Linked DNA regions of Homo sapiens. The protein of the gene in region 1 purifies or fractionates together with the protein of each later gene. This does not show direct contact. Each region holds a gene or a part of one and is shown in the gene's direction. Other genes may lie near its edges.

Region 1 (3,656 bases):
GGTCAGGAGTTTGAGACCAAGCTGGCCAACATGGCGAAACCCTGTCTCTACAAAAAATTACAAAAATTAGCCGGGAATGGTGGTGAATGCCTGTAGTCCCAGTTACTGGGTTGGCTGAGGCAGGAGATTCATGTGAACCTGGGAGGTGGAGGTTGCAGTGAACTAAGATCATGCCACCACACTCTAGCCTGGGCAACAGAGCGAGGCTTCGTCTCAAAAAAAAAAAAGGAAAAACTTTGTGCTATGGCTTTGATTTGTCTTTTGTCAGTAATGTTTAATCTATTTTGAATTCTAACTAAAATGGAAGAAAAAGTATGATATTTCTTTATCTCAGAGTAGGAGTTTGTTGAGATACTTTTCTAGGATACAGTATTATATTTAGATGTAAGCTAATTTGTTGGATTTTTTGTTGTATGTTTATTTTTGTAGGGGAATATCAATTGTTAATTTTTATCTATCCTTGATAGGTTAGATGGAGTCAGATTTGAAAATGAAAAAATTAATGTTATTGCCAAGAACACTGGTAATAAACTGAAGCTAAGTCAGAAAAAATGGTAAGTAAGGAAAGGAAGATTAACATTTCATGTCTGGATTTTGGCACTTAAGTGTGGAAATAGATCTCTGCTTACCCACATATGAAGCAAAATGTATAGGTAGATACCCTCTTACCTTTTCTAGTATTCTGCATTTCTGGAAATGTTGGGGAGCTGTTGAAGTAAATTGATAAAATATTAACTGCTGAAGACATCAAAGGAGTTTTTTCTTTCCGATGACTTTCTAATAGAGAGTGGAACTTTTAATTTTTATTTTTTCTTGCCTGAATTTTGTGCCTTGTTATAATTAGGAAATGTTATTAGCCCCCAAACCAATTAATTATACCTCTTCATCATTGTTATGATTATTGCCTTTAGTATAAAAAATTCTTAGTAATAAATATACTATTCTAAATATATTGTTAAAAAGTTTTGTTTTTAGGGCCTGGTGTGGTGGCTCACGCCTGTAATCTCAGCACTTTGGGGGGCCGAGGCAGGTGGATCACCTGAGGTCAAGAGCCTGATTAACATGGTGAAATCCTGTCTCTACGAAGAAAATACAAAAATTAGCCGGGCATAGTGGCGGGTGCCTGTGATCCCAGCCACTTGGGAGGCTGAGGCAGGAGAATCACTTGTACTCGGGAGGCGGAGGTTGCAGTGAGACAAGATTGCACCATTGCACTCCAGCCTGGGTGGCAGAACGAGACCCCGTTTCAAAGAAAAAAAAAGTTTTGTTTTTAGCTATTCATGCTTCCTCTGTAAGTGAAAAGGTTTTGGAGAAGGATAAACTGTGGAGTTGTTTCAACTGTGCTTGGCCCAGATTAGCTACTACAAATAAGTGAATTACAGAGACTTAAATATGATATCACTTAGTATTATATTATTAACAGTTTTTCTGGAATAAAAAAAAGGAAAATCAGAAAAATACTTTTTGAATATTTGTATTCGGCTCCCTTTTCAAATATTGTCTTTACTCTAAGGCCCTTATCTTCCCTGTGGTGGAAAAAGATGAAGTATTTTATTGTATGTATTCCTGCAAGTTATTTATTCTCTGCCACCTTTAAGAGAAAACTGAAAGTTAAGCCAAATCCTATAATCTTTTTCACTAAATATGTAAAGAAATTGCTCTTGCTTCAATTAAACATTTTCTTGCAGTTCATTTCTGTGTGACGTGACCATGAAATCAGTGGATGGAAAGGAATTTCCTTGTCATAAATGTGTTCTTTGTGCTAGACTTGGTAGGTGCACTTTTTAAAGCTGCTGATTTATTTGCTGTAGTATTGTTTCACTATTCTTATTGCATTGAACTTTTTTTTCTTTTAGAATATTTTCATAGTATGCTGAGTAGCTCATGGATTGAGGTAAGATTTAAGTAAAAAGCGCCTAGGTTGGTAACTATGTTTCTTTATATTTTGTGCAAAGTATGTAGTAAAGAAATTCAAAATCAGAACTGGATATTTTAGCTCAGTTTTTCATTTATATTAAACTTTATGCTTGAGGCTGCTGGAAAATAGCAACACTTAGAATTTAAAATTATTGCCAAGAAGCTACTTAAATAAAAATTTCCCCGTTATTATTTAGAAATGTATTAGGAACACCACTGTGTTTCTTGTTTTCTGAATTTTTTTGTTCCTTTTTCATGTTATGTTTTAAAATTAAATTTAATATTATTTTAGCCATGTGTTTTGTAAATTTTATGTTTTGCATTTGATGTGATTTCCTGTTCAGAGTGTTTTGTACCAATAACCCAAATTAGAATGTAATATTTTATTGTTTAGAATGAATTATTTTACTTTATTTTGTCTTATTTTATTTAGGCTTCCAGTTGTGCAGCTCTGGAAATGCCAATACATTCTGATATATTAAAAGTTATTTTGGACTACCTCTATACTGATGAAGCTGTGGTGATAAAAGGTATTAATAAGAGTTAGGACATTGTAGATACTTCACATATAATGGAATAATGGTAAAATCAACGTGAATCTTAATTTCTAATAGAAAAAAACCATCAATAAAGGCTTAATTTATTTTATTTTTAAAATATTTAATTTATTTTTTATTATTTATGGAGACCGGGGTCTTACTATGTTGCCCAGGCTAGTCTCAAACTCCTAGGCTCAAGGGATTATTCCACCTCGGCCTTCCAAAGTGCTAGGATTATAGCGTGAGCCACTATGCCTGGCCAATAAAGGCTTAATTTAGAATAAGCAATAGGAATGATTGCTAATAGTAAAGGAGCAGAAAAAGGTTTTCATTACCCATGTGAAAATGAACTCTTTGAGAATTAGTGCTTGCTTCGGCAGCAAGTATACTAAAACTGGAATGATACAGAGATTACATGGCCCCTGTACAAGAATGACACGCAAATTTGTGAAGCGTTTCATTAAAAAAAAAAAAAAAGGAATTGTAGGTAATGGTTGAAATTAGATTCAGCAGTTCAATTTCCAGCTACTTCTATGATGGAGATGAATGAATTGACAACAGGGATAGTTTTGACAAATACTTACATAAGTTCTTTCTTACCTGTTTTTCCCCTTTGTGGTTACACATCTTGAAAGAAACAGATTAAAAATTGTACCAAAATTTATGAAGAGAGGTCATTTATGTACTTTGTTAGGCAAAACAGTAACTTTTAGTTACAAGATATGTTTACTCATTGGAATGGTACTGGATGTTCTGTCATATTCCATTAGTTTTTTTTAACCCCAGCTGTATACTGGGGATAAAAATAAGTGGATAGACCTTTTTTTATATTCAAGAAACTCAATCTAGTGGAGAAGACAAATGTATAAGAAAACAAATATAATCCAACAGAGTAATTCTCTAAAAAGCAGATGCATTTTTAAGAAGCTAGCCTCTGAGTCTGCCTAGGAAATCTGGGTAGTCTTGTAAGGAGATAGAGTTTAACTGAGGACAAAATTTCTGAAGATTTGTATACTTGAGAGTAAGATAACTGAGACATGGTATGTTTTTCTCTACTTTCATTCTTTTTAAAAATCGAGAAATTATTTGCATGATAAAACTTATACTTTTAAAGCATACAATAAGTAGTTTTTAGTATGTTTATGAATTTGTGCAACTATCATCACTGTATAATTCTAGAACATTTTCATCACCCCAGAA
Region 2 (3,656 bases), on another chromosome or scaffold:
TCTCTGGAAAGATACAGAAGGAACCAACTGATAACATTTGTTGCCTCCAGAGATGGGAAATATGTGTCTGAGAGGCAGGATAAGAGGGGGACTTTTTACCCTTTCGAAATTTGAACCACGTAAATAAATAGAAAGAAAATTAAAAATAAAAGAAATAAAGAAGCCATGTAGACAATTTGAATTTCACTGAGATTTAATTGTTTGCACAAAACGTGAATAAAACCTGAGAGATGCCATTTTTAAGAAGTCAGCATATATAATTAATTGGTTGGTATAATTATTGAAAATATGCATAAGATTGAATTAAACACACATGAGACTTAAGGAACAGCTGTTTGAAGAGCCGTGAGGTCAGTTTAAATAAATTGTGGTCTGAACTGTTTCATTGCTCCACTCCTACAGGCAGGCAACTTTCACATCATGGTTTACTATGTGGAATGCTCTCCCTGGAGCAGTGCTCGACTTTATTATAATATAGCTTTTGCCAAATAATATGCTTTTGCCATGCATATGTACCTGAACTTGGCCTCTAAGGCCCCTACCTACCTCTCTGATTTTCTCTCTCTGTCTTTTGAGTGTGTTAGGTTGGTTCTGTTTCTCTCCGGGCTTTTGTTGCTATTTTCTTTCTTTGAAATAGTCTTCCTCCACATCCTTGCATGTCTGTCTTTTTTTCATCATTTAAGTTTCTCTTGCTAATCCAAGGTCATGAAGATTTATGCTTAAGAGCTTTGTAGTTTTAGCTCTTACATTTAGGACTTTTATCCATTTCTGAGTTAATTTTTATATAGGGTGTGAAGTATAGAGGTCCAATTTTATTCTTTTATATGTGGACATCTAGTTGTCCCAGAACCATTTTTTGAAAAGACTCTTCTTTCTCCATTGAATTATCTTGGCACCCTTGTCAAAAATCAGTTGACTGTAAATGCGAGAGTTGATTTCTAAACTCCCAGTTCTGTTCCATTGATCTATATATCTATCTAAATGCCAGCAACACACTGTGTTACCGTGGCTTTGTCATAATTTTTGAAGTCAGGAAGTATGTCCTCCACCTTTGTTCTTTTTCAAGATTGTCTTGGCTATTCCATTTCCTTGAATTTCTATATGAATTTTAGAATCAGCAAAGATGCCACATGGAATTTTGATAGGGAATTTATTGAATCTGTAGGTCAATTTAGGGAATATTGCCATCTTAACAATATTACATCTTCCGATCCATGAATGTGGGATGCCTTCATTTGTTTAGGTCTTCAGTTTGTTTAAATAGTATTTTGTAGTTTTTCACAGTGTGAGTTTTACACTTCATTTGTTAAATATATTCGTAAGTATTTTATTCTTTTTGGTGATTTTTTTAATGGAACTGATTTCTTTTTTTTTGAGACAGTCTCGCTCTGTTGCCCATGCTGGGGTGCAGTGGCACCATCTTGGCTCACTGCAAGCTCCGCCTCCCGGGTTCACCCCATTCTCCGGCCTCAGCCTCCCGAGTAGCTGGGACTACAGGCGCCCGCCACTGCACCCATCTAATTTTTTTTTGTATTTTTAGTAGAGATGGGGTTTTACCATGGTCTCGATCTCCTGACCTCGTGATCAGCCCGCCTCGGCCTCCCAAAGTGCTGGGATTACAGGCGTGAGCCACCGCGCCCAGCTGGAACTGCTTTCCTAATTTCATTTTTGGATTGTTTATTGCAAAAGTATACAGAAATACAATTGATTTTTGTATATTGATCTTGTATCCTTGCTGAACTCATTATTCTAAATTTTTTAGTGGATTTCTTATGTTTTTCTGTAAGATTGTTTCATCTGTAAACACATGGGTTTACTTCTTGTTCAATGTAGATGTCTTTTATTTCATTTTATTGCCTAATTCTTTTGCTAGAAACTCGACAACATTGAGTACAAGTGGCAAGAGCAGACATACTTTTTCCTGATTTTAGAGGGAAAGCCCTCCAACTGCTTACTTTTTGCTTCCAAGGTATAAGGCCTTAGTATAATTTTAAATATTTTATTGATTGATTGATTGATTGATTGAAACGCAGTCGCGCTGTTACCCAGGCTGGAGTGTGGTGGCGTGATCTCAGCTCACTGCAACCTCCGCCTCCCAAGTTCAAGTGATACTCCTGCCTCAGCCTCCCAAGTAGCTGGGATTACAGGCATGTGCCACCACACCTGACTAATTTTTCTGTTTTTAGCAGAGACGGGGTTTTGTCCTGTTGGCCAGGCTGGTCTCGAGCTCCTGGCCTCAGGTAATCTGCCCGTCTCAGCCTCCCAAAGTGCTGGGATTACAGGCGTGAGCCATCGTGCCTGGCTTAAATACTTCACAATTATTTCATGATTTTTTTTCTGTGTTCCCACCAGTTAAATCATTATATATTTTATTCAGATATATGATTTTGCATTTTAATGATTTTCAGGATAAAAGATTTTTGTACTTGGATAGACTTTTGTGAAGTATGTTGATGATAATCCATTTCTGCTCATGGATTTGGTGGGCTGTTTTAAAATATTAACCAGAAATACTTATATTTCTTTATTACTTTCAAAATAGAGAAGTAAAACCAAAATACAATATTTTGTCAACCGCTCTGCAGCATACTGCGGTACTTATTTTGCATAAAACTGTGTACTCTTCAAAGATAAAATGAACACAGTGACATAATTTGCTTTCTCCTTTTTTTTTCTGAGACAGAGTCTCGCTCTGTTGCTCAGGCTGGAGTGCAGTGGTACAATCTCAGCTCACTGCAACCTCCGCTTCCCAGGTTCAAGCAATTCTCCTGCCTCAGCCTCCCAAGTAGCTGGGACTGCAGGTGCTCGCCACCATGCCAGGCTGATTTTTGTATTTTATTTTATTTTATTGTATTTATTTTATTTTATTTTATTTTATTTTATTTTATTTTAATTTTATTTTGTATAGAGATGGAGTCTCGCCCTGTCACCCAGGCTGGAGTGCAGTGGCGCGACCTTGGCTCACTGCCAACCGCTGCTGCCTGGGTTCAAGCGATTTGCTTGCCTCAGCCTCCCAAATAGCTGGGACTACAGACGTATGCCACCACGTCTGGCTAATTTTTTTGTATTTTTAGTAGAGATGGGGTTTCCCCATATTGGCCAGGCTGTTCTCAAACTCCTGACCTCTAGTAATCTGCCCGCCTTGGCCTCCCAAAGTGCTGGGATTACAGGGGTGAGCCACCGCACCTGGCCGATTTTTGTATTTTTAGTAGTGATGGGGTTTCACCACGTTGGCCAGGCTGGTCTCAAACTCCTGACCTGAAACGATCCACTCACCTTGGCCTCCCAAAGTGCTGCAGTTAAGGTGTCAGCCACTGCACCCGGCCAAAAAAAGAAAACATTTTTGTGTTGCCTTCATTTTTATTTATTTATTATTATTTTTAAATTTTTTATTTCCATGGGTTTTTGGGGAACAGGTGGTATTTGGTTACATGAGTAAGTTCTTTAGTGGCGATTTGTGAGATTTTGGTGCACCCATCACCCAAGTAGTAGGTATGAATCCAGTTTGTAGTCTTTTATCCCTCACTTCCTTCCCACCGTTTCCCTGACTCCCCAGAGTCCACTGTATTATTCTTTTTTTTTTTTTTTTGAGACAGAGTCTCGCTCTGTCACCCAGGCTGGAGTGCAGTGGCGCAATCTTGGCTCACTGCAAGGTC
Region 3 (3,656 bases), on another chromosome or scaffold:
GTGGTTCAGAATAGTTGGTGTGTGATATTATGGCTTTTATTAAGCTGTAATATCATGGCTTACATGTGATCATGTAAAAGTGGAATTTATATTAATTTTAATTTTCCTTTTAGGATCTCAGATTACTTAACATTAACATACAACACAAAGCTAGAGATAATGTGCGTAGCTTTCTAGTAAAGGACAATGTAAAACTTTGTAATCAATGATGCATCATGTGCTAGAAAGACACCAGACTATAAGTCAGACTTCTAGTTCTTGTCCTGAACTCCTAGCTAAGTGTTCTTGATCAGGTAACTTCATTTTAGAGTTTTATCTTCATTTGTATATTGAAGATATTATTATTGCCTCACCAAGGGTACTTTTGCATTTGTTGTGAAGAGCAAAAGAGTTATTAATGGTTTGAAAACTAAAAAACCCTGTGCTTATAGATGACCATGCGTTCTACTAAGGATAGCATTGTGTATATACCATTTTTACTCAGGAAGTATTTTTTGACACATTTGCTCAAAATTGCTTCCGTTACTTCTGTAGGTCTATTATTTGTAGGTTGACCATTCTGAAAATACCTCAGCTGCTAGTTGTTTGACTTATGGCAGCTTCGATTGAGAAACACAGTTTGCTTTCCTCCAAATAAAAAATGACAATGTTAAGGCCCACTAACTTTGGAGAGTATGAAGAAGGTTCCTCAGACTTGGCTAAAGCACAGTCTCATATCCTTGTTGGGTTTCTGAACTGAGAAATGATCTTTGGACCTTACAGAGGGTAGTTGATCATTTTAGGGTTCAGAATAAACTGAGTTCAGTCTATAGACTGAATAGACTGCAGCCAATAGAGCTTACTCTTCCTTGGTCTAATGAAAATAATAGAGGAATATGCCATGTTTCTCCTTTTGTTGATACATCTGATGAATTCTAATTTTTTAAGAAATTCTTCAAAGGTATTGTAACATGTATTCCCTGGTTACCATATAGATTGGTGGAGGTGGATAGTGGATCATACATAGTGGGTACTTAGTATTTCATTTAAGGTTTGCTTTGAATTCTCAGAATTCAATTATTTTAGTTGAAGAAATCGATAGTTTTCTCCAAGAAGTACCAAATGTTATAAGTAGTCTCATTAGAAAAGAAACTTCATCTTTAGGAAAAATATGTTCATTTTATTTTGTAAAATGTTGATTATCAATAAAGAGACCTCACCCTTTAAAGAGATAAAATTCAAATAAAGCATGTCTTAGGTGCCTTTTACTTTTATAAAATATTTCTACACTGAAGATGACTTTCTTGTTTTTGTTCTGATATTAAAGAAGAAAAATTGATAGCAATATAACTTACCTACTTTTAGGGGATTTAGGTACTTGAGGTTGTAATGTTTGATAATTATCACGTGCTTTTATAAAACTACTTGATTATTCCTTTGCTTAATTCTTCTAGCTGCTGTTACAAATTTCTTCTGGTTTTCCTAACACATTTTGACGGCTTATAAATGAACTTGTGCAGGAAGCGGTGCTCCTGTTTCCTGTTTAAACCAACAATTGTAGGAATTGATTCCATTGTGCTACATAAAAAGAAATTTTGCTCAATTCCAGAAAGCCTTGGGGCTGGCCAGAAATCCTGGAAGTCTGGTATCTTTCTGATCACTGGGCTACACAATTCCAAATGATTACTTCTGATTTCTGACTCCTTTGTCTTGCTGGAATATTTGTGGTCTCGATTTTTCATTTGATCTGTCTTAGAACAGTCATAATTTTCTAATTTGAATAGCAGCGAATATTTCATGAATGATTATGTCAGCTCTTACACCGTGTTATTTAATTGATATAACACACCTATGAGAAAAATATTAACTTTTTAGATTAAAAAAAAAACCCTGACATTTATGGAGATTAGGTACCTTGTTCAGGTACATTCCATTATTATAATAGAGACAGTTCTAGGATACCCATGTTTCTCTGACAGAAGAGTTTGTACTCTTAATCACTTGTAAGCTATTAGGAAATAATGACACAGACATGGTAAATGTAGAATATGTTAATTTTGTAAAACAGTAATGTTAGAAGTTAACTCAAGACTAACACAAGATGCATGTTAACATGTATGCACTACACACAGTATAGTTACTTCAATTGTATAGGTAACTACATCCTGAATCAACTTTTCAGAAGTAAGCTATATACATATATTAAAATAATTTCATACCATATGAAATTATTTTTATTATTCATGCTTTAATAATCAAGTTTTATTCTTGGGATGTCAGAGAAATCACAGGCTTTTGAGTCAGGCCTGAATTCAAATGCTGGCTCAAATACACAAGTCTTGATGGAAGCCTGACCTGTCTGAACTTCAGGTTTGTTTCAGTAAAAGAGCATCATTGTTGTGGGGAATTAATAGTGTATTGCAGCGAACCTAGTACAGAATTAAGGTGTTAAATACTTTCACAGACATTGGAAAGGGTGTGGACTTTGGAGTAAGAAAGATAGATCTGTGTTAAATCATGCTTTGCTGTGGTCAGTTCTGTCAGTTACTTAAACCATCTGGGCCTTAGTTTTTTCATCTGAAATAAATGGGCTAGTGTAAGTACTGAGTTAAATTATTTGTTTCAATTCTTACACATAGCAGATGCCCCAGAAATGCTAGTTCTTTTTTTTTTTCCCCCACTTTTTTTAAGATTTAATGTGCCAGGGCTTCATATTCCTGACGTCTTAGGATTGACTTCTGCTTTTTAAGAATTCTTATAAATCACTACCTGGATTTATCTGAAGTATGGAACATCTGTACTGTGTGTATATATATATATATATATATATATATATATATCTGTACTGTAAAAATTCAGAAGTTTTTCCCTTTAAGAATGTGTATTTGGAACTTTCTCTCTTTTTTTTTTTTTTCTGTTTTAAAACGTCATATGTACATTTCCCTCCTCTTCCCCTTTCTCTCCCTAGAATATGAGAAGGGCCTAGAATGAAGGACTCAGAGGTTTGAATGTTCCTATTCGCTTAGCCTGGTTGCGTGCTTACCTGTAAACCTTTGTGCCGCCCCTTTTATGACAGGGACAGCTCTGTATCCCTGCCACATTGCTTTTTTACTGTGCAATCTAGGCAGTGGCATTGTATTATATTTCATGCGTATATTATCTTGTGTCACCTATGTAATTGACTTTTTAATCTTTTCATGACCATTTCCTGGATGTTTCAGGTATCTGTCTGGAGAAAAGAAAAACATATTACTTGACATGTCATTAAAGTTTGTTAAATTCCATGGTGTGAATAAGCTCAACCCGCGCTCTTCATGAAGTCTCAATTTCTATCTGGTATTTTCATGGTGTTTTGATATAATTAGGAACCCTGAATATAGACGTCTCATTTTAAAAGAGTTCTGAAAATGTTCTGTTTCAAAAATGAACTGAAGTTAGGAGAAGCCTCCATATGTTTATCCTAAGTATGGTAAACTATTTAAGAAACAGTTATTATTTCTTACTGGATTGTTTGTTAATTCATAAAGTTAGGTCATAAAGTTGTTAATTCTGTATTGGATTGTTTGTTAATTCATAAAGTAAAACCATACAGTGGGAATTTGGAAAAATTACCTCTTATTTTCTTCACAAAATACCAATTATTTTGTTTTATGTAGGCTCCTTGAAGTTCGTGGAAG

Evidence for each region.
Region 2: the proteins of IBTK (region 1) and RFC1 purify together in Homo sapiens (affinity purification with mass spectrometry; one large-scale study listed by BioGRID and IntAct). This does not show direct contact.
Region 3: the proteins of IBTK (region 1) and RFC3 purify together in Homo sapiens (affinity purification with mass spectrometry; one large-scale study listed by BioGRID and IntAct). This does not show direct contact.

The regions. Positions count from the first base shown.
Region 1 is NC_000006.12:82,209,605-82,213,260, reverse strand, and holds part of IBTK (inhibitor of Bruton tyrosine kinase), read left to right. Parts: intron 1-467; coding exon 468-554; intron 555-1,688; coding exon 1,689-1,771; intron 1,772-1,856; coding exon 1,857-1,894; intron 1,895-2,350; coding exon 2,351-2,447; intron 2,448-3,656. UniProt on the Homo sapiens protein: Acts as an inhibitor of BTK tyrosine kinase activity, thereby playing a role in B-cell development. Down-regulates BTK kinase activity, leading to interference with BTK-mediated calcium mobilization and NF-kappa-B-driven transcription.
Region 2 is NC_000004.12:39,359,755-39,363,410, reverse strand, and holds part of RFC1 (replication factor C subunit 1), read left to right. Parts: intron 1-3,656. UniProt on the Homo sapiens protein: Subunit of the replication factor C (RFC) complex which acts during elongation of primed DNA templates by DNA polymerases delta and epsilon, and is necessary for ATP-dependent loading of proliferating cell nuclear antigen (PCNA) onto primed DNA.
Region 3 is NC_000013.11:33,831,513-33,835,168, forward strand, and holds part of RFC3 (replication factor C subunit 3), read left to right. Parts: intron 1-3,635; coding exon 3,636-3,656. UniProt on the Homo sapiens protein: Subunit of the replication factor C (RFC) complex which acts during elongation of primed DNA templates by DNA polymerases delta and epsilon, and is necessary for ATP-dependent loading of proliferating cell nuclear antigen (PCNA) onto primed DNA.